Linked DNA regions of Homo sapiens: region 1 is linked to region 2. Evidence: fine-mapped QTL for protein levels in blood plasma. Region 2 holds a variant in brackets. A gene starts in the other region. All regions are shown on their reverse strands.

Region 1 (10,987 bases), not on the chromosome of region 2:
AGACATCTACGGTACTCTCTACCCCAAATCAACAGAGTATATATTCTTCTCAGCACCACATCATACTTATTCTAAAATTGACCACAAAATTGGAAGTAAAGCACTCCTCAGCAAATGTAAAAAGAAAAGAAATCACAACAAACTGTCTCTCGGACCACAGTGCAATCAAATTAGAACTCAGGATTAAGAAACTCACTCAAAACCACACAACTACATGGAAACTGTAGTCCTGAATGACTACTTGGTAAATAACAAAATGAAGGCAGAAATAAAGATGCTCTAGGAAACCAATGAGAACAAAGACACAATGTACCAGAATCTCTGGGACACATGTAAAGCAGTGTGTAGAGGGAAATTTATAGCACTAAATGCCCACAAGATAAAGCAGGAAAGATCTAAAATTGACACCTAACATCACATTAAAAGAACTAGAGAAGCAAGAGCAAACATATTCAAAAGCTAGCCGAAGACAAGAAATAACTAAGATCAGAGCAGACCTGAATGAGATAAAGACACAAAAAAAATCTTCAAAAGATCAATGAATCCAGGACCTGGCTTTTTGAAAAGATCAGCAAAATTGATAGACCACTAGCAAGACTAATAAAGAAGAAAAGAGAGAAGAATCATATAGACACAATAAAAAATGATAAAGGGGATATCACCACTGATCCCACAAAAATACAAACTACCATCAGAGGATAATATAAACATCTCTGTGCAAATAAACTAGAAAATCTAGAAGAAATGGATAAATTCCTCGACACACACACCCTCCCAAGAGTAAACCAGGAAGAAGTTGAATCTCTGAATAGACCAATAACAGGCTCTGAAATTGAGGCAATAATTAATAGCCTGCCAACCAAAAAAAGTCCAGGACCAGATGGATTCACAGACAAATTCTACTAAAGGTACAAAGAGGAGCTGGTACCATTCCTTCTGAAACTATTCCAATCAATAGAAAAAGAGGGAATCCTCCCTTACTCATTTTTTGAGGCCAGCATAATCCTGATGCTGAGAGTTTTAGACCAATGTCCCCGATGAACACTGATGCAAAATCCTCAGTAAAATACTGGCAAACAAAATCCAGCAGCACATCAAAAAGCTTATCCACCATGATCAAATCAGCTTCATCCCTGGGATGCAAGGCTGGTTCAACATATGCAAATCAATAAATGTAATCCATCACATAAACAGAACTAAAGAAAAAAACCACATCATTATCTCAATAGATGCAGAAAAGGCCTTTGACAAAATTCAACAGCTGTTCATGCTAAAAAACTCCCAATACACTAGATATTGATGGAACATATCTCAAAATACTAAGACCTATTTATGACAAACCCACAGCCAATATCATACTGAATGGGCAAAACTGGAAGCATTCCCTTTGAAAACTGGCACAAGACAAGGATGCCCTCTCTCACCACTCCTATTCAACATAGTATTGGAAGTCTGGCCAGGGCAATCAGGCAAGAGAAAGAAATAAAGGGTATTTAATTAGGAACAGAGGAAGTCAAATTGTCCCTGTTTGCAGATGACATGATTGTATATTTAGAAAACCCCATCACCTCAGCCCAAAATCTCTTTAAACTGATAAGCAACTTCAGCAAAGTCTCAGGATACAAAATCAACGTGCAAAAATCGCAAGCTTTCCTACACACCAATAACAGACAAACAGAGAGCCAAATCATGAGTGAACTCCCATTCACAATCGCTTCAAAGAGAATAAAATACCTAGGAATCCAACTTACAAGGGATGTGAAGGACCTCTTCAAGGAGAACTACAAACCACTGCTCAATGAAATAAAAGAGGACACAAACAAATGGAAGAACATTCCATGCTCATCGATAGGAAGAATCAATATCGTGAAAATGGCCATACTGCCCAAAGTAATTTATAAATTCAATGCCATCCCTATCAAGCTACCAATGACTTTCTTCACAGAATTGGAAAAACTACCTGATCTTTCATATGAAATCAAAAAGAGCCCACATTGCCAAGACAATCCTAAGCAAAAGGAACAAAGCTGGAGGCATGGGAAGAATGTATATTCTTTTGGTTTTGGGTGGAGCGTTCTGTCAATGTTTATTAGGTCCATTTGGTCAAGTGTCGAGTTTAAGTTCCAAATACCTTTATCAGTGTTCTCTCTTGATGATCTATCTAATGCTGTCAGTTGGGTGTTGAAGTCTACCACCATTATTGTATGATAACATAAGCTTCTTTGTGGGTCTCTAAGTACTTGTTTTATGAACCTGTGTGCTCCTGTGTTGGGTGCATATATATTGAGGATAGCTAAGTCTTCTTATTAAATTCAACCCTCTATCATTAAATAATGTTTTTCTATGTCCTTTTTGACAGTTGTTGGTTTAAAGTTTATTTTGTCTGAAATAAAAATAGCAACCCCTGCTCTTTTTTCTTTCCTGTATGCTTGACAGATTTTTTGCCATCCTTTAGTTTTGGCCTATGGGTGTCCTTGCATGTGAGATGGGTCTCTTGAAGATAACTTACAGGTGGGTCTTGTTTATTTTTTTTTTTTTTGTCTTTTTTAACGTGAGACAGGGTCTCACTCTGTTACTTAGGCCGAAGTGCAGTGGCATGATCACAACTTACTGCAGCCTCCACCTCCCCAGGCTTGGGTGATCCTCCTACCTCAGCCTCCTCAGTAGCTGGGACTACAGGCATGTGCCACCATTCTTAGCTAATTTTCTTGGTTTTTTTGTAGAAATGGGGTTTTTCCATGTTGCCTAGGTTGGTCTCAAACTCATAGGATCAAGCAATCGGCCTGCCTTAGCCTCAAAGTGTTAGGATTACAGGCATGAGCCAGGGTCTTGTTTCTTTATTCAACTTGCCACTCTGTGTCTTGGGGTGTTTAGCTCATTTACCTTCAAGGTAAATATTGATAAGTGAGAAGTTGATTTTGTCATTATTGTTAGCTGGTTGTTATGTAGACTTAATTGTGTAGTTCCTTTATAGTGTCACTGGTCTGTTTACTTAAGTGCATTTATGTGGTGGCTGGTAAGAGTCTTTTATTTCCATGTTTAGCACTCCCTTAATGACTTCTTATAAGGCAGGTCTGGTGGTAATAAATTTCCTTAGCATTTGCTTTGCTGAATTTCTCTTTAACATATAAATCTTACTTGGGCTGGATATGAAATTTTGGGTCAGAATTTCTTTTCTTTAACAATGCTGAATATAGGCCCTCAATGTCTTCTGGCTTCTAAGGTTTCTGCTGAAAGGTATGCTGTTAGCTTGATTGGGGTCCCTTTGTAGGTGACCTGCTCCTCCTCTCTGGTTGCCTTTAGTATTTTTTTCTTTCACATTGACCTTGGATAATCTTATTATTGTGTATCTTGAGGATGGTTTTCTAGTGTAGTATCTCTCAGGAGTTCTCTGAATTTCTTGAATTTGAATGTTGACCTCTATAGTGAAGTTGAGAAAATTGTCATGGACAATATCCTCATATATGTTTTCAATTGTTTGCACACTCTCTCTCTCTCTCTTTCAGGGACATCAGTGAGTACAGGTTTGGTCTCTTTACATAACCTCATATTTCTCAGAGATTTTGTTCATCCTTCTGTATTATTTTTTCTTTATTTTGTGTGACTGAGTTAATTAGAAGAACTGGTCTTTGAGCTCTGAGATTCTTCCCTCAGTGTGGTCTATTCTGCCTTTAATACTTCCAATTGTATTATAAAATTCTTTAGTGAATTTTTTAGCTCTGTCAAATCAGCTTAGTTCTTTCTTAAAATGGCTATTTTGTCTTTCAGTTATTGTATTATTTTACTGGATTCCTTAAATTCTTTGGATTCCATTTCAACTTTCTCCTGAATCTCATGATTTTCATTGCCATCCAGATTCTAAAATCTATGTCTATTATCTCAGCCATTTTAGTCTGGTTAGGAAAGATTGTTGGGGAGCTAGTGTGTTCATTTGGAAGTAAGAAGACACTCTGACTTTTAGAGCTGCCTGAGTTCTTCCACGGGTTCTTTCTCATCTATGTGGGCTGATGTTCCTTAAACGTTTAAAGTTGCTGTCCTTTTGATGGGGCCTTTTGCTTTTATATTCTTTGATGCCCTTGAGGCTTTGACTATGGTATAGGTTTGGGTCAGTGAGCTAGCTTTATTTCTTGATGATTTCAGGGGGCCATGGCTCAGCTCAGCACTCCTGGGCTATATGCTCTAAGACTGAGGGCCTGGGACCAGGCCCAGAACCTTGTTCTTTGGCCCCTTGAGACTGAGCACCTGCTTCACTGGAGGGGGCCAAGGTGCTCCCAGTCCACTAGCAACAACACTCCTATGGTGGGCAGGGTGGGGGGGTCCCAGAAAAGCATTTCATAAGGGCAGTGGCGGTGGGGGTCTGCTCTCACATGCATGTACTGGCAGCAGTGGGGCAGTGGCATGGTGGGGTCCACACTCACTCACATGCTGGTGGTGGTGGGGCAGCAGGGTAGAAGGTCCATGCACATGTACACCAGGGATGGTAGTGTGGCAGGGTACATGCACGCATGTAGGCTAGTGGGGACAGTGCAGCAGTGGTGAGGTCTCCATGCATATGTGCACAGAAGTGGTAGCAAGGCAGTGATGTCTGTGTATGTATGCCAGCAAAGCAGTTGTGGGTGCTGAAGGCAGGTGCATGCTGATGTGAGGCCAGTGACAGAAGCTATTTGGTGGTTTGGTGGGGTCAGCCAGTGAAAGACCTATGGCAGTGGTCTCTGAGAACTGCCTCAGTTGAACATCTGAGGCTGTGCTGCAAGCAGGTACAGACAGGCAGGGATCCTGGGAGAGGCCAGCAGACATGGGGTGGGGGGCTCAGATCAGTCTAGCCCCATCCAAATATCATGGTAGCCCTATTCTGTCCAGGTCTGATAGTCAACAAAGGGGTCAAAGCCACCTAGAGGAGCATGCCAATCCTCGGGTAATGGACATCCCTAACCATGCTCCACTGTAGCTGTTCTCACACCAAACCCTCTGGGTTCCATAGAAGCTGGAGTCCTGTCCCTGCCAACTCTGCAAGTAGCTTTCCCTGCCAACTCAAATGTCTGTGTGGGTCGTGGGGGTCTCCTGCAGCTAGGATTCCAGAGGTTCATGGATAGAGTGGGCCACTTCATGCCTATTTAACCAACCCCTTCCCTAGAAGCCACTGAGGACCAAGAATAAGTCCTAGTGTTTGGCAACCCTGTGTAGGGTTCGCAGCTTCTTCCCCCCTTCAGCCCAGGGTCTGCATTCTCCCTCCATCCACTCTCAATGCCTTCTTTCCAATGATCTTCTCAGAGTATACTGCTCTTCTTGATGGTCTTGTCTCTTGGTGGGAGAAGCTCTTCCTGGCTGCATCTAGTCAGCCATCTTGTCTCTTCTCCCAAAAATAAGTTTAATTTTATATATTTTTGGCTTTATTTCCCAGTTTCCTGGGTGTCCTAGAATCCTCTCTATTGATCTCTCTGTATCTGCAGGTCACAGGGTGACTAAGGGTGCAGGAGAGTCACCTAGGGCCTCCTGGTGCCAAGGAAATGAGCAATGGAAGCAGGACCCAAGCTGGGTGAGTGGGCACAAGGAGACAAAGGCCCTGCCAGATCTGGGAAGCCACCTCCTCCTCCAAAAAAAGTTATATTCATACATGGAATTCTATTCAGCAATGAAAAGGAATGGTTACTAATACACTGAGCAGCATGGATTACTTACAACCATATGCTAAACTGAAGAAAAATAAAAGGCAATACCAAGTAGATATGTTTATTTCCATCTTAATAAAATCATAGAAAATACAAGTTTAAGCTTAAGTGACATAAAGTATATCAGTAGTTGCAAGAATGCCAGGTTGTTGGTGTGCTTGACTACAAACAGGTATGAGGGGTTATGACATTTAATATCTTGATTGTGATTTTGTTTACATGGGCTTATATAATTATCAAAATAAATAGAACTGTACACTTAAAGATTCAAATTTTACTATAAATTATACATCAATAAAATCTATTTAAAATTTTTTGAAATAAATAAAAACATGAAAACAATAGAAAAGAAACATGGACAGATTGAGGAAGCAAACATTGCAACTTCAGGAGAGTGGACACAATCTCATTTGTTTTATCCACCACCAGTTTAGAAGCTGTATGTGCCTGTCTCAACTCAGTACCCAAAAAATATTAGTTGAATTAGTGAATGAAACCTAAAGGGACTAAAGTTTAGCCAAGGCTATCTCAGATAACACAGTCCTTTAGGAAATTTGTCTTCCATATACAGCACAACGGTTGCCTTGATCCCACTCCAACCCTGAGGACCAAATCTCTTGTTCCTTTTCTTAAGTATTCTGTGACATATCTGCACCACTGATCATCACATGTAACTTGCACACTCTCTGTCTATTTGCATTTGTAATTCTCTGTGTTTAGAAAATAAGTGTATCAAGGCACAAGGCTGCACTTTTCCTTAAATGTTTAAGGAGAAAATGAGGGAGCTAAAGGAGAGTGGAATTTATCTGCTAGGTATGAAGCATTTAAACAAAAAGAGAAGCATGAATATTTCCAATGCTACAACAACATTGGGAAGGAATATAATGAGAAAAATTGTCAACATGACAGTTAATCCAACTTAGATATGATGTTTTGTTTTGTGTTTCACTGAGCCTATCATATGCAGGAAAGGCACATTTATCATGATCCTTGCCTCCTAAAAGCTTAAAAATGTGAAATGAAAGACTCAAGTAGCTGCAACACAGGGTAGGAAGTGTTGCATGCACATAACAGTTGAGGGGCTCTCTGGGTTCAGTATGGGTCAAGGAAGATCGTTGGAGGAAATGACATCAGAAATGGGCTTTGAAGGTTGAGTGCTATATAAAAAGTGGAGATTCCAAGAAAAACATTCCAAATTAGAATTTGGTTTTTATTAACAAATGTTTATTATGCAGAAAGAGAAACAATTTAAATGGAGAGTCGACGGGATGGCATCACTATATTGTACTAGGCTCCTGGGTTGCTGGGTTCTTAACACAATGGGGGAGTCAGGGGGAAGAGTCTCACAGGATGTCCTGATATGAGCTGTGAAGGAACAGGAATGGGAGAAACCCTGAATAAGTTGGAGGTGGTAACTGAGGATAAGGTGGAGTAGTCAATAGAGAAAAGCTAAGAGAGTGAAAAATGGAATGTGAAATAAGAAACTGGGAGGAGAGGAGGAAATACAAAAAACTCACCAGTGCTTCTTAAACCATAACACAAGGACTATTAGAATCACCAAGGGCACTATCACTACCAAGGCAATCCAATTCATGGAAAAGTGGTGTCCTGCACATATTGGAAAGATACATGGATGCCATTTTAAACTCACTGCTGATTCTATTCCATCTATTGATTTCCTTACTTAACATATGCATTGGATGAGTTGCATCAGTTATCCTATTTCAGTCACTCTATTCCAAAACTTACTCAAGGAAGGATTCCTCATTTCCCCTTAAATCTCTAGTATCCATGTATCCCTTAGGTCTTACTCCACTATTCTTTAAATTACCCTATACATTTCTTCCTACAATCCCTCACCTAGGTCTGCTATCCTCAAAATTTCCTCTCCCCTAACCTCTAGGCTCAAGAACCACCTACCTACACTTCCAACCTCCAGTCTTACCCCAGTAGAGGATGATGTCCTGGCCTCCTAGACTGCTGTGTCTCACTCGACAAGACAGGCCAGCAGGCTCCTCAGATGCCACCTCCAGGATCACCTGAAGATACCATGTCCCATCAGCATTAGGAAGAATATCACCATGTTTAGTGCCCAGTTGCTCCTGTTCATTCCGCATCCATGTCACCCAAACAGGCTTTGGGTAGAAGCCGGAGGCATGACAAACCAGCAACAGCTGGCCAGACCCAAGGCTGGGGCGACTGGACAGCCAGGCTTCTGGCCTCACTGCAGAGAGCAGAAAAAGTGTTCTGATGAAGAAACTTACACACAACTTACATCCACATACACACATCCACATGAATATGCACAGTTATCTTTTTCCTGCCTCTAAGAAACTATTACCCAGCAACCCCCCTGCTTCTTGTCCTCTTTCTTGTCCTGAGTTTGAAGGGTGGGAACAGAAGGGGCAGTACTTGAATAGAAAAATCTTAGAGGAAGGGGCTGAAACTACTGACCTTGCCTGTGTACATACATCTTCCCTGCATCCAGGAGACCCAAGAGAAATCGGGGGCAAGTGCTTCTTATGAGATTATACACTGTTTCTGTGACGCCTTCATACTGATGATTGAGTAGATGACAGACACTTTGGGCCAAACTTCCACAGCCTGGAGATGGCACCCATGTTGTATTCTGGAAACTCAGTAAATCTAATCCGTTGAAAGCTACCTGAAAGAAGCCTTCTGGGCTCTTTCCAGAATGCAGCTCACAGCCCGCTTTCACCTGTACTTCAAAGGGATCTGGAGGAAGGGAGGAATGAGAAAAAGAGTTCAAACAAAAAAGTGAAAACAACAGTATAAAAACCTAGGGCTGTATCAGGAAGTGAAGCAAGAAAGTTTTACATGGATGTGAGAGTGAGCCAAAGACATATTTGATCAGAAACAAGAGAGAAAAATTGCTGGGGATAGGGAAGGGGACAATAAGAGATAAATGCCTTGAATTAACAAGAAAAAGTGGCCAAGGAAGATGTGGAAAAATGATAGGTGAGCCACATAATATAGGATAGAGGGTGAAGGGGGAGCCTTTGTGAGGGAGGTAGGAGGATAGCATTCCATGACGCATGAAATTGGTCATAATGGTCATTGAACTGTGGACATAGATCTTTGAAGAAATTGAATGGGGGAATAGATTTTATTTTAAGGGAGTCAAGCACAGAGTGGGACAGCTGTGTATCTCTGGATTGTAGGATACAGAGGGAGACCACAGGTGGAAGATAACAAAGCACAAGAAAAAAAATTCCAAAAATAGCAAGAGCCTAGGAAATTTGAGGGAGTCAACATCAGGAATATCCCTTAAAAGGTTCATCTATGCAGAATTTTATGGTGGGATGGGATAATGGGAAATGGCCCAAAAATTAGTAGAGAATATTTCCCTGAAATAGAACATTCTAAAGAACTCCCATAATTTAGATGATTGAACTTACATTTCGAGTAATCTTGACTTGCATGGTCTTGAATCTCCCGAGTTAATCCAAAGAGGTAGAAACGAAATAACAACTCTAGGTCTGACAACTCTTCATTGCTGAAGTTGCCCTTGGACCAGTTATGCAGGAAAATTATTGTGCCTGATTCACTGTCCCAGCCATGAGTCTGCAACTCGTCCAGCCATCCTGAGCCCTGACCTCGTGCCCAGGATTGGTTGACAAATGAGAAGATCTGGATGACATGGAAGGAGACGTGTTCCTGGGATGCTTTTGGTGGAAGAAGGGCAAGTAGTGTAAGGAAAAAAAAAAAAAGAGAGGCAAGGAAAATGGAGAGAAAATGGAAGGTGAACCAGTTACCACAGAGAAACATTAATGACTACTTTAGCTATACCATTTTCCTTACACAGAGCCCCATGCTCTGCCACCATCCTCTAAAAGAGTAAACTGGACCTGGAGAGAGGTATGCTCAAATGGCAACCATTCTGGCTTCTTCATTGATCCATCTTGGGAAAGCCCATCATGCTCAACCCAGATACATGTAACCTTGCAGCTGACAGAGATGTTCATACTATCTGCATTGTCACCACCGGGGAGGAGAAGAACTAGCAGCGGAAACTACAGAAACAGCATGTCATTTGCAGTTGTTTCCTTCTCTCAGAAAAGCCATTTGCTGATCTCTGTTCTTAGCAAACTTATCCCTCTACATCTATATTCTGACTTCCTTCTACCAACAGACAATCTTCCCCATCAGCCACTGACAGCAACTAAGACAATCTGCTTCCCTTAACCTTAGGCCTCCTACTCAATCTCTCATTTCCCCATCTGCTCTGAACTAAAGTTACTCTCTTCCCTTAGGATTTTAGCTGCTCTCCCACTAAGCTCCATCTTATCTACTTCCCTTCCTCAACTGCCTTAGACAAAGTGGTGCGTGGCATTGAAAGGTTGCTTCATCCCTCTGGACCTTGCGTGTCATTTGTAACATAAAAAGGAGAAACCACATCATTTTCCTGGGCCCTGATTGTTTTAACGGAAAATGGAGAGGAAATGGAAATTGAACCAGTTACCACAGAGAAACATTAATGACTACTTTAGCTATAACATTTTCCTTACACAGAGCCCATGCTCTGCCACCATCCTCCAAAAGAGTAAACTGGACCTGGAGACAGGTATGCTCAGATGGCAAGCATTCTGGCATCTCTATTGATCCATCTCGGGAAAGCCCAGCACACTCTACCCAGATACATGTAACCTTGCAGCTGACAGCGATGTTCTTACCGTCTGCATTGTCACCACCTGGGAGAAGAAGAGCTAGCAGCAGAAACTGCAGAAACAGCATGTCATTTGCAGATGTTTCTTTCTCTCAGAAAAGCTGTTTGCTGATCTCTGTTCTTAGCAAACTTATCCCTCTGTACCTATATTCTGACTTCCTTCTACCAACAATCTTCCCCATCAGCCGCTGACAGCAACTAAGAAGATCTGCTTCCCTCAACCTTGGTCCTCCTACTCAATCTCTCATTTCCCCACCTGCTCTGAACTAAAGTTATTCTCTTCTCTCAGGATTCCAGCTGCTCTGCCACTAAGCTCCATTATATCTACTTCCCTTCCTCAACTGCCTTAGACAAAGTGGTGTATGGCATTGAAAGAAAGGTCATTTTGTCCCTCTGGATTTTGCATGTCATTTGTAAGATAAAAAGGAGAAACCATGTCATTTTTTCAGTTCCTGCTTGTTTTAATAGATCACAGTTCTTCCAGTTTCTCCACTTAACTTTGCCTCCACTCTCCATAGTGTCCCCTCTTCTCATCACTCCATTCTTTCTTTCCCCCTTTTGAATGTCCTCAAAGTTTTCTCTTTCCAATTTCACCTCTTTTCACCCATCTTTCTTATTTCCTCATTCTCAC
Region 2 (11,495 bases):
AGTTAGAGTCACTCAAACCTCCTTGCTTGGGTGGGGTTCAGAACTCTGGGCAAGCCAAGGGCAGAAGATGTTAGCCTAGTGGCTCCAATTGTCCAGTTCGTGGCTTCAGTTGACCCATTCAGACCAAAAGGAAAATGTTTTCCTCTCTTTCTCCCTGGACGTGACCAAAGAAGCAACTGCCTGAGTTGCTGCCAGCAGCTATCTTGCAGCCATGAGGGAAGTCAGCCTAAGGACAAAGAACTAGAAGGGGGCAGAGCAGACAAGGTCACAGGAAAACAGAATTGGCACCCTGATCAAACCCTACCTGAAGCCCTAACTCTGGGCTACTTTGAGATGATCTAATGCACTCCTTACGATTTTAGTCAGTTAGTATTGACTTTTCTCTTTCTTGTATCTAAAAGCATCCTAATGGGCACATTTGGATGGATGCACCTTTCCCCACTTCTGCTGTAAGAATTCCCTTTGCCTTCCTCCAGCCCCTGTCAGAGCCAAGTCAGCACACATTAAACGGGCCAGGGCAGACTAAATGTGTCCTCTGGACAATGCAAATGTCTCTTGTGGTATCTTAAGACTTTAAAAACTGTACAGGGAGCTGTGGCTTAGCTCAGTCCTGCTTCCCATTAGGATAAACACACCCCTCAGTGTAGGGACCCACGTACAGCTCCAGAAATAGCCTGCCCACCAGAGAAAATGCACTTTATTTGACAGGCTTCCCACAGCCATGTCATTATCATATAATCTCTTTTATCCACCCCTTTTCCCTGCCTGGAACTCAAATTGCATCTTTAAAATGTCTAAGTAGCAGTTTGGTGATCTTCAGCGATGCTATACTTGATTCTGAGCTGGGAAAATCAGCGTCAAAGGAGAAGTCTGGGTGAGGGGCGAGAGGAGCGTTTTACATCCAATTATTTTTCTTTGAAGAAAGAAGAGTTGAAAATACATCACAATGTACATTTCAATGTCCACGGTTCCGCTTTCATCCTTGAAATCCGCCCTCACAGACCTGGCCTGAGCACCTACTGGGCGCAATGTTTTGCCCTTAGCACTAGGTGGTGATTCTTACTTCTGGCTTCCTTCTCACAGGGCTGGCACAGCCCTGCAGGAGCGTAGATCCCCCGGGGCTCCAGGGGAAATCAGGCAAGAGGCAAAGAGGCAGACCCAGGAAAAGAGTGAAGGAATCTGAAAAAGCTACCTGCTAAGGGGCAGCATCAGAACCACTGGGGAGGGGGAGGGGGAGCGGCTCAGGGCGGTCAAAGACAGTGTCAGAGTGAAACAAGGAAAGAGCTCTAGAGGAAGCAGGAAGTACACCACACACACACACACACACACGCCACACACACGGGCACACACATGCACACATACACACATGCACATGCGCACACACGGGCACACACGTGCACACATGCATATGGACACGCACGCATGCGCACGCACACACGTGCACACACACACACGGGGATGTTGAGGGCTGAAGACTTCTGGGTTCACTGTGTGGGAGGCTGGTGAGCTCCACTTAGCCAAGGCTAACTCTCGGAGCAAAACTGGGAAGCAGGCGGGGTTTGTCTCCTGTGCCCGGCCCACCACCTCCTGCTTCATGCCCTGCTTGGGTGGAGCCTCCCCGCAAGGGGAGTTCTTCCTCTTTCCAGTACTGAAGACCTGCTCTAGGTCCCTCCTGGGCTGAGTGACAAGCCCCAGCTCCACGTGCTGAGGGGAGGATCGGAGAGGCAGCCTGGGAGTGGGGCACTGGGGTGGCTTTCTAAAAGGAAACAAAGCCTTGCTTGTGCCAAGTCCATTTCCAACAGCACACAGGAGGCCTTGGTGGGAGGCCAGAGCACGGGCCCTCTCCTCCCCTGAGCACCCGCCCGTACCAGCCTCTGTGCTCACACTGCCTCCTTGCAGCCTCACAAGGACTGCACATCAAGGAGGTCATTGGCCCCGATTTAAAGATGAGAAAACTCAGGCTGAGAGAGGTCAGCAGGATTCTAGTTCAGGCCTTTCTCTCCCTCAAGGCCTGCTTTGTTCCTCTACCTGCCCTGCTTGCCTGCTGAGGTGAGGTGGAGTGGACTCTGACCTCACGCAAGCTTTGCCTTCCTTACCGCCTCTTAAACCAACCCGAAGAAGCAAATAACAACGTAAATCTCACAATAGGCGAAATTACGCAGAGGTGGGTATTTGCAGGCCTAAAAATCAACCTTTTCTCTTCCTGCAAGTTGCTCCTGACCAATGCTGGGCAGCATTGGCCATCCCAGGAGAAAAGGCAATATAGAACTTTCTGGAAACCCACTAAATTCCTGAGTTCACAGGGGATTGTTGGAGTACCCCAAACCACACTTCATCTCCTGTCATTGTTTCTCTTCTAAGGTGGCAACTACTGTTTCCTCGTGCCTGCTATCAGACCCACTGTGTTTCTCCTCATCTCATCAGAGCCTCCTTGTTATTTCCTTCCCAGAATCCCTACCCTCCACACACCCACACCCACCCACATGCACACACATGAACACACAAGCACACTGACACACACACAGCACATGCATGCACATACTAGCATGCTCATACACATGCACATACTTGAGCACTCATGCACACACATGCATACACAAGCACACTCACACACCCACATGCACACACATGCACACAAAGCAGACTCACACACCCACATGCACACACATGCACACACAAGCACACACACCCACATGCACACACCAGCACACACATGCACACTCACCCACATGCACACATACAAGCACGCTCACTCACCCACAAACACACGCACACACACAGAGCAATCAGTTCCTTTCAAAACCAAAATATATGAACTTATATAATCATATTTTCTTCTACAATTCTGAAGTCTTAAGAAAAAGGTCATTATGCCTACACTTTTGGTTGAGGAAAATTTCAATCATCAAAATAAAGTAACAGAGAAGCAGAGCAGATCTGTTTCTAATGAAGAAAGTTTGGGGAAAGGCAGCTTGCACAGGCACGTGTGTGTCCTGGGTGGTTTACACTGGTGTGCGTGCAGCGGCGGGCTGTTCCTCCCACCCAAGTGTGTGTCCTCGTGCAGGTTGGTGTGTCTGAGCTTGTGTGCCGGGGGACCCAGCAGCACTGAAGCCCCTTGTCCAGTCAGAATCTGGCAGCAGAAAATCTGCATTTAATTGCAAATGTTGTAAAAATAATCACACAGAAGACCAAGCTAGCATTGAAACTATGCGTCCTTGACTTAGTGCCTGAGTGTGGGACATCTTTCTACTGAAATGCTTATAAAGCTGCAAGCCATAAGTCAAAATTTCTTCAAGAACATGTCTTCTCTCGTTAGGATGATTTTACTTCTCAGGGTGTTCCCAGCCTTTTCTGGGAAAAGGAGATGGGGGAAGGGCACGGAGATGGGGGATTTATAGGGTGAGGGCATGGGATGGGAGGCCTCCTTAGATCTGTCTTAAAGATGTCTTTGTTTTTAATTATCCATGTCTTGAACTACAGTGAAATCGGCCTCACTCTTGCGTTTTAAACTCAGATAAAATGCTCTGCGTTGCAGCCTTCTCTCTACCTCCCAGACAGTGGCCTCTCCCCCATTTGAAGATTATTTATTGCTTCTCAACCACCTTTCATCCTGCTAAATGATTCTCCATGCTTGGTGCACAAAACAGCCCAGAGGGATTTTATTTCTCTGAGTGCTGGGCTCTGTCCTCTTACCTCTTCCCAGGGAACACTTTGGGCTCAAAAACCCGCATTGCATTCACTGTCCCAGGCCTGCTCTGTGTCGTTGGCTTCTCCCGACAAAGGCCCAGAGAGTCCCCTGGTCATAGGGCTGCCTCTGGGCCTGCATGACTATACTTTCAAAAGGGGGGAAAATAAACTGCTTTTAGAAGCTTGCTGAGAAGGAGCTCAGCCTGCAATACCTCCCTTCCCAACTCCCCACCCTCCAGGGCATCCAGTAGGTGGTCACCCTTGTGGACTTTAAAATGCAGATTTAGCCTAAGTGGGCTGATGCCAACCTCTCTTGGCTCCCCACCCAGGTCCAAAATAAATTCACACCTCCTCATTTCTGTCCTATTAATCAGTCCCTCCCAGGGAAAAACAAGCCAGTCAATGCTGGCCAGGTGGATGGAACCACAGAATACATGTTTTTAGATATTTTAAAATTAATTTATTTCCTGCTCATATTTTTAATTTTGCTTCCGTTACCAGAACGCAACTGCGCTGTACCTCTTGTTAAGGAAAACTGTAAATTCTAAAGTTAGACTTTCTTTTTCCCCTCAGGAACTGAAGGTTCTATTTGCGGACTCCATGGCCCTACCCCTGAGGCTGGGATCTGGGGAGAGAGGTGACCCCACCCCCCGCCAGCCCCCTCCTCCTTCAGGTTCTCATTTGCAGCTCCACACCACCCCCACTCTGGACTTTCTCTCTCATTTCCTGTCCCACTCCTGGCCCAGCTAGGCTGTGCCTGGGGGGCCCTGCCGGCTCTCCCTGGCCTTGGGGGTGGAGGCGGTGCCTGGGCACCTGGTGTCAGCCTTGCTCTCAGCTGTGCCACTCCCTTGCTGTCCCTTCCAGCCCTAGCCGTCTCCTTCTGCTCCTGAGCCTCTGTAAAAGACAAAAATTCTGAAAGAGTAGGTCAAAAATGTTTCAAAGAAACTTTAAAATGCCCTCATAACATAATTAGAACATAAAAATAGCAAATACTCACTAGAGCTTACCAAGGGCCAGACACAGTCCTAAGTGTTTTCCAGACATTCATTCATTTCATACGCACAGCGGTCTTGTGAGGTGGACACTATGATGATTCCATTTTGCAAGGGGACTGAGGCACAGAGACTGAAACTTGCCTGATGGCTCCCAACTAGAAAGAGGGAGAACTGGGATTTGAACGCAGGCAGCTCTGAACAATGACACCATTCTACCTTGCTGGTAGAAAAGTAGATTTTATCATTTTTACTAGTGCAGTCATATCTCACTTATCAAGAAGTCCATGAATTGATAATCTCAACTATTCAGACCTCGATCAAGAACCGAAAACACAAGTAAAAGGATCCTTTGAGAGAGTAAAGTATAAGAGGCGTCAAAAAAATTCATATCCAAAGGCTCCTGAGGAAAACCTCTCCAGCCTTCCCACAAGATTCTGAGACTGATTAACTCTTCCTGAGAACGTACAGTTCTAACACACTTGGTGAGTGGTCTCCCTGCCACACCCTCTTAGAAACAACAAACTAGAAAGAAATTCATGCCAATCTTTTCATATCAATCTTAAAGAAATGCGTAAGTTAAACCACGGGACCATGACCAGCCATATTTGCAGCCAATATAGATGTTGTTGGTGATGAATTGAAAATTAGCATGGGGAAGTGCTTATGTTATCATTATAACTAAAAAGAAGCAGGGTGCAAAATTATATCTATGGTGTAACTTCAACATGTGCAATAAACAAACAACACTCAAAACTGAAAAATGAGATAAAATGGAAATATATCAAAACGTAGTTTTCTCAAGGTGTCATAGGTGATTTTGTTTTCTTTCTGTTTTTTTGTTTTCTTTTTTTCAAATTTTCTGTAATGAGCATTTTATAGAGAAAAGTTCCCAATAAACTTTAAAAAG[A/G]GAAATAAGGAAAGAGGAAGAGAGAAAGAAGAAAAAGGAGGAAGGGAGGGAGAAAGGAAGGGAGGGTCACTAAGTCAGGTGCAAGCCAGCCATGCAACTGGTGACAAGGGAGAGGAAGAGAAACTATTTAATTCATGCCCAAGAAATCGAAATGCCTAACAGTCCAGGGGCCATTTCCTGGAAAGGCAAATTGCTCTTCATAAATCAATCTTCTCTGAATATATCACCATGTAATCAACTGACAATTAAAATAATAATCGCTATTAACTAAGCATGTCCTTCTTTCCAGGCTAGCCCTTTGTTTACATAATCACACGGACCTTGTGAGGGAGATATGCTTTTCCTCAGTTTACCCATGAAAACCTGAGGCAGGACAATTGATACTCGTTAGGATGAAGATTTGACTCTGTTCATGATACCCAGCTGAGAGGGCTGAGAAGCAAGAAACAAAAAGTATCTATTCCCATCTAAAATGGTGAAAATGGGCCAGGTGCGGTGGCTCATGCGTGTAATCCCAGCACTGTGGGAGGCCAAAGCAGGCGAATCACTTGAGGTCAGGAGTTCAAGACCGGCCTGGACAGCATGGTGAAACCCTGACTATACTAAAAATACAAAAATTAGCTTGACGTGGTGGCACATGCCTGTAAATCTCAGCTACTCGGGAGGCTGAGGCATGACAATCACTTGAACCCAGGAGGCAGAGGTTGCAGTGAGTTGAGATCATGACACTGCACTCCAGCCTGGGTGACAGAGTGAGACTTTGTCTCAAAAATAAATAAATAAAATTGTTCAAATGATTAAAACTATTTTATTATTTAAAGGGTAAAATTCAGGTGTGTGGAAAAACTACTTAGCTAGCACACCTTATAGGGGTAGGCGGTGAATAAGTGAGGAAAGTCCATGTTAATTAAGTTCCTTAGAACCTCAGCAGACACACCCCACGGGGATCCTGAGGGGCTGGGATGGCCTCTGCCTTACCCTGCTGGCTGGATAGGCCCTGCCTGCAGGCACCTTAAAGAGGTACATTCCCTTCTGGAGCCTAAAGCCTTAGAAGTGTGGATATGGTCTAATACTGTCCTCTTTTGTCCCCTTCCTTCCCTCTAAGGAAAAAAGGAGGGAAGGAAGGGGAGAGAAGGTTCTGTGACCCCATGGGCCCACCATGCTACTACACAGCCTGGTTGCTGAGGGAGCCCCAGGCAGGCAGCCAAGGCCTCCATTGAAGTATGTACGTTCTCCAGGAGGGCTGGATGCTCTCATGTTTGTTCTTGAGCAATGACCAGGGAGTGGAACGTGGGAGAGATACAGTTCAATGAATGAAAGAGCCTTTGAATCCTTTCCTTAGAGGCACAGTTAATTTAAAATAAAGTTGTTGTGTTCACAGCATCATAACATTTAAGCTCTGAAAGTCACCTTCACCATCACCTAGTTTCTCGTCCAATTTCCTTTGTTTGTTTGTTTACACATAAGGAAACTGAGTCCCAGAGAGGGGAACTGATTTACCCAGGGTCACGTTGCAAGTCTGTGGCTAAGCCTGAACCACTTGTCACTTTCCTAAATTCTTGCTGGATCAAGCTCATTTTGACAGTGAACCTACAACCATACAGCGTAGAATGATGCTCAGTGTGTCTTCCAGAGACTGCTTGATGCTGCTGCCAGGGAGAGAACACACTGTGTTCCTCTCAGATCATTTATTGAAAATTCTTTATGATGTGGATTCCCAGGCCACATTTCCCTGCCCCTTCCACCTGGGAAGGGTTGAGATAGCATTTACGAAATGACCACCCTGCAAAACCCAAACCACAGCAGATCTCAACCCTAGGCTAAACCTAATCTGTACCCAACCCCAAATACCAAACTTTTCACTGAACCACAAAAGGAACTGAAGTCTTTCAGAAAAATTGATAGTGAAGAATTATGAACCAGAACCAAATGGATATGCATTCAACACAGCTGAAGCAGAACAGGATCCAGCAGATCACAACGTTGTCTGACCCCGGGAAGGCTGAGCTCTTGGCTATTAGTGATGTGGATAGAGAGGAGTGGGGTGAAGAAGCACCTCCCCTGGAAGAAAGAAAGTAGAAGATAGTGGTTAACTACTCCCAGATGTGCACCTCCCATTCCATCCTCCACAGCTGGGTGGAGGACTGGGATCCCTAGAGGGTCAGAGACACCAAAGATTCCTTCATAACAAAGGTAAGGACTGAAGACAGGCAGAATGTCAATGTCTTCTTGTTTCATGTAAATGAATGAACTGTGCTTTGTGTTATAGAAGTGATACAATTGGAAGCCCATATTTGAAGAAAAGAACACGAACTGGCTTCTTATCAGAGGTGCAGCGTTTTAGGAATCTAGCAGCTAAGTTACATTCAGGTGAAGGCAAACACCAGCAGACAGATATTCGTGCACTTGTGTCAACTGTCGGGATGGGTACCTTGGGAATACCAATATGTCCTTTAAGAACAAAATTTAACTCACCTGTTATTTTCCAACTCAAATATCCTTCCTTCCACTGAACCTGCCTGATTATTTCACACCCTCCATGGTAGAAATAATGTCCTCCTCTGAACTGGGACAAAAAAAATATAGCCATATGTCTGCTATAATATTGAATCATTTCTACTTTTCATTATGGTTTTTGCTGCCTGTGAGCAGTTTGGGGAAAGGTCTCCTATCTGACTTTTCCGTGACATCCTGGTCCCCCACAAAGCACCCGGCATGTGACAGTCACACAAGAAATGTTTACTGGATGAGCAAATGAATTTCTCAGGTTGTTGTCTCTGAAGTGGAAACTTTAGCCTCCGTGGGTGGTCTCAAGTGGAGACGCAAACCTGCCACAATCACACGCAAGCTTCTGAGGACACTCCATGCACAGGTGCTATTTGGGGAGGAGTCCACAGATTGTATTAGATTTCCAGAGGGATCCAGTTCCCCAAAAGATTAAGAACCACAGCTCTGGAACTGGGGAGACAGTCCAGATGAGGCAGTCTCTGTGACAGCTTTGGACTTGCGCCCCCAGGAGTGCCTGGTGGTGAGCTTCTGGAAGCTGGAAGATAGGCCATGCCTCCACTCTGTCCCTCTCTCCTTGGCTCACTCAACAATAATAACGTCAATAAATGCCACCATTTTTCAGGGACCTATAGGGTCTGCTCTAGTATTTGCTATATTGCAAATGAAGAACCAAGCCTCAAAGAGGAAGGTGTCACTGATGTCACAGAGCCAGTAAGTGCAGGGCTGGATTCTGAACCCAGGCCTTACTTCAGAGTCCTTATAGCTCTTCCTCTGAGGCAGCTCATCAAATCCATGCAAGTAAGACATCAAGTAGTGTCCCTGGATGACAGGGGCTTCCAGTAAGGAACCCCTAGAGTCTCACCTATATAAAGTGTGTGTGTGTGTGTGCACGTGTGTGATAACGGATGGATGGATGGATGGATCACTGGGTAGAAAAGGAGAAAAGGGACTCCTGCCTTTAGCTTCTTCTAGATGTTTATTATCCAATCCATAGGTATGGCACAGACTGAATTCTATGGATAAACCCTGATTTGGAGAACAATAAATTCAAATAAGAAGGCTGTTGCACTGTGTTAAATATGCTCACCCACCACCACTAAATTAATGTTGAAATCCTAACCCCTAGTACCACCAGAATATGATCTTACTTGGAAATAGGGTCATCGCACATGTGATCAGTTAAGATGAGGCCATACTACAGAGTATGATGATCCCGTAATCCAATATGATCAATGTCCTTATAAAAGAGGAAATTTAGACACAGACAGACACACAGACACACACAGGGAGATGACCATGTGAAGACGAAGGCAGAGGTCCGCAAGCGAAGGGACACCAAAGGTCGTAGCAAGCCACCAGAAGCGAGGAACAGGCTTCCCTCACAGCCCTCAGAAGGAGCCAACCCTGCCCACAACTTGATCTTGGCCATCTGGCCTCCAGAACTGTGAGAGAATAAACTTCTGTTGTTGAAGCGACCCAGTTTGTGGTACCTTGCTATGGCAGCCCAACCAAACAAATACACTGTTTCTCCAAAAGTGTGAAGGTGTGAAAAGGTGCATGTGATCTGAACTCTAGTTCTATCTCATGTGCCAAATTCTAACCTTTGACTCTTTTAGCCTCCCACAAGCTGTAGACAAACAATTCAGGCAGTATTGGCATGGCAGGAGTGACAGAAAGCTATTATGGATTGATTCGATTTTGCCCAGCACATGGCTTTGTCTTCATCAGACTTTTCTTAAATTTTGTACACTCCTTAACTCAAACCACTGCTCTTCAGATGTTTGCATTGCTTATTTGTTTATTTCCAAGGAATACTTAACCAAATCAGAAGCCAAGGCTCTGGAAATCTGGTTGGAACATAACCTCCTCCAGTTCCTAGCTTTACAACGGAGCAACCCTCAGTCCTTAACTGTGACCCATGAGTATTGGACCCTGGGCAAGTCTCACGGAGGGGAAAGGAAAGAGGCCTGAGGACAGCCCCTGCCCAGAAGGTGTCTCCAGCCCAGCCCAGGAGATAAGACTGAAAGGCAGAGTATAAGGTCTGTGTGATGATAACAGAAAACAACGCAAGAGAAGTCACAGCAACAGCCACGTGAGAAACACAACCAGAGTGATGAGTTCCAAAAAGGGAGAGCGAAATTTGGGGAAGTTAAAAAGATGAGAACGGATAAATTAAAATGTGCAGTAGATTGAAATTCAGGCTTTGCCCAAGTCAAGGGGAACTTGAAACTCAAGTTCCCAGATCACATCTAAATTTGGAGCTGTAGTTTTAAGTGGGTTTGAAACCCTGCCAAATTGCCCATCTTTTGGGTTCAAATCTCTTGATTTATTTGAAGCCACAAACATGGCATTTCTAAACAGAGGAACCAAAAACCAGAGAACTCAGCTGGGTTGGAACCCTTCATTATCGTTAATGCCTCTGAGTCCTCAAGGAGCAAGTCCTTACCCCACTGTGGGTGAAAGACAGGGCCTGTTGTGCTTCAGGTGCGTTTTCCGTTCTGTTTTCACTCACATTAAGAAGCTTAAGCCCCTGAGCTGGAGTTACTGAGCCCTTGCTGTGTGCCAGGAACTGGGCTGCATTCATGAGAGCTGCCTGTGGGGCCTGTACCACAACCTGCCCTGGCCTCACACTTGGGACTTAGCCCAGGGACTAAATCATGTACAAGTGCAAAGTAACAAGCCCATACCTGCAGGATGGAGCCACAGACTGGGTCAATACAGATCCAGAAATAGAAGGCACCAGAGGTAACAACTTCCATACATTGTCTTCACTCACAGCTGTCATAATTTACCCACAAATTGATTCAATCTTTAGCAGTGAACAGTGAAATCCGGTAACTGAGGACATCCTCTCCTAAGGGTTCAGTGACCTCTGATTTTCTAATTCTCAGACAAGTCATCCTGGTGAGGTGACTTGTCCTTGAGGAACCTGCAGACAAAATGACTATATGGAGGTGCTACTGTGGAAGGGGAGGGCTGTGAGTCCAGCACTGGCCGGAGGGACATTTCCGAGGGTGACCGCGTGTGTACGTGTGTGTGATATGAACATCCACCAGGCCCTCCTTGACCCACAGAAGCAATGTCTCTGTAACATGAGACCTGGGGTTGGGGGAGACATCCTCCAGAGGGTCCCCCTAGGCTGGCCTGGACATCACCTGTGCTTGTCTCTCCCACTTCAGCATCCTGTAGGAACACACCAGACAGTCAAGGGAAATGAAACAGAGAGGCTGGAAGATCAGACATAACAGAGCCAAGTGGATGGAGAGCTTAGAGATGGATGAAGGCGTGTGACCCATTCCTGCTTCAGTGAGGAGAAACGAGGACACTGCTTCCTAGGGAAGCCCACGAGTTCACGGTGCAGTCAGGCTCACACTTTGATTCTGTCAGTGCACCAAAGG

Which allele goes with the higher level. Positions count from the first base shown, and alleles are read on the strand shown. Strength reflects both the effect of a copy and how common the allele is.
In carriers of allele G in region 2, the plasma level of the protein whose gene starts at base 10,566 in region 1 tends to be higher than with A alone (weak association).

The links. A credible set is the group of variants that fine-mapping cannot tell apart. PIP is the chance, under the fine-mapping model, that this variant and not a neighbour inherited with it causes the effect. The UK Biobank Pharma Proteomics Project read protein levels with antibody pairs (Olink). The fine-mapping took linkage between variants from a reference panel, not from the people measured, so its PIPs are less certain.
Region 1: CD1C starts here. The variant in region 2 is the best candidate, but not a certain one, in a credible set for the plasma level of the CD1C protein (UK Biobank, PIP 0.70).

Annotation. Positions count from the first base shown.
Region 1 is chr1:158,289,502-158,300,488 of GRCh38, reverse strand. It overlaps CD1C (CD1c molecule), which reads right to left and starts at 10,566. Exons shown (of 6, transcript NM_001765.3): 1 at 10,364-10,566; 2 at 9,089-9,355; 3 at 8,124-8,405; 4 at 7,615-7,893; 5 at 7,187-7,277; 6 at 5,715-7,034. The coding sequence starts at 10,424. The coding sequence ends at 7,013. It also overlaps a transcript of CD1B not described here.
Region 2 is chr6:44,617,364-44,628,858 of GRCh38, reverse strand. No RefSeq gene overlaps it. Among named protein-coding and RNA genes, the nearest start is that of MIR4642, 190 kb to the right of the region's middle. RefSeq lists enhancers at 920-1,427, 1,428-1,935, 3,461-3,969, 3,970-4,477, 7,468-8,052. The variant A/G (reference allele first, on the strand shown) is at 5,590.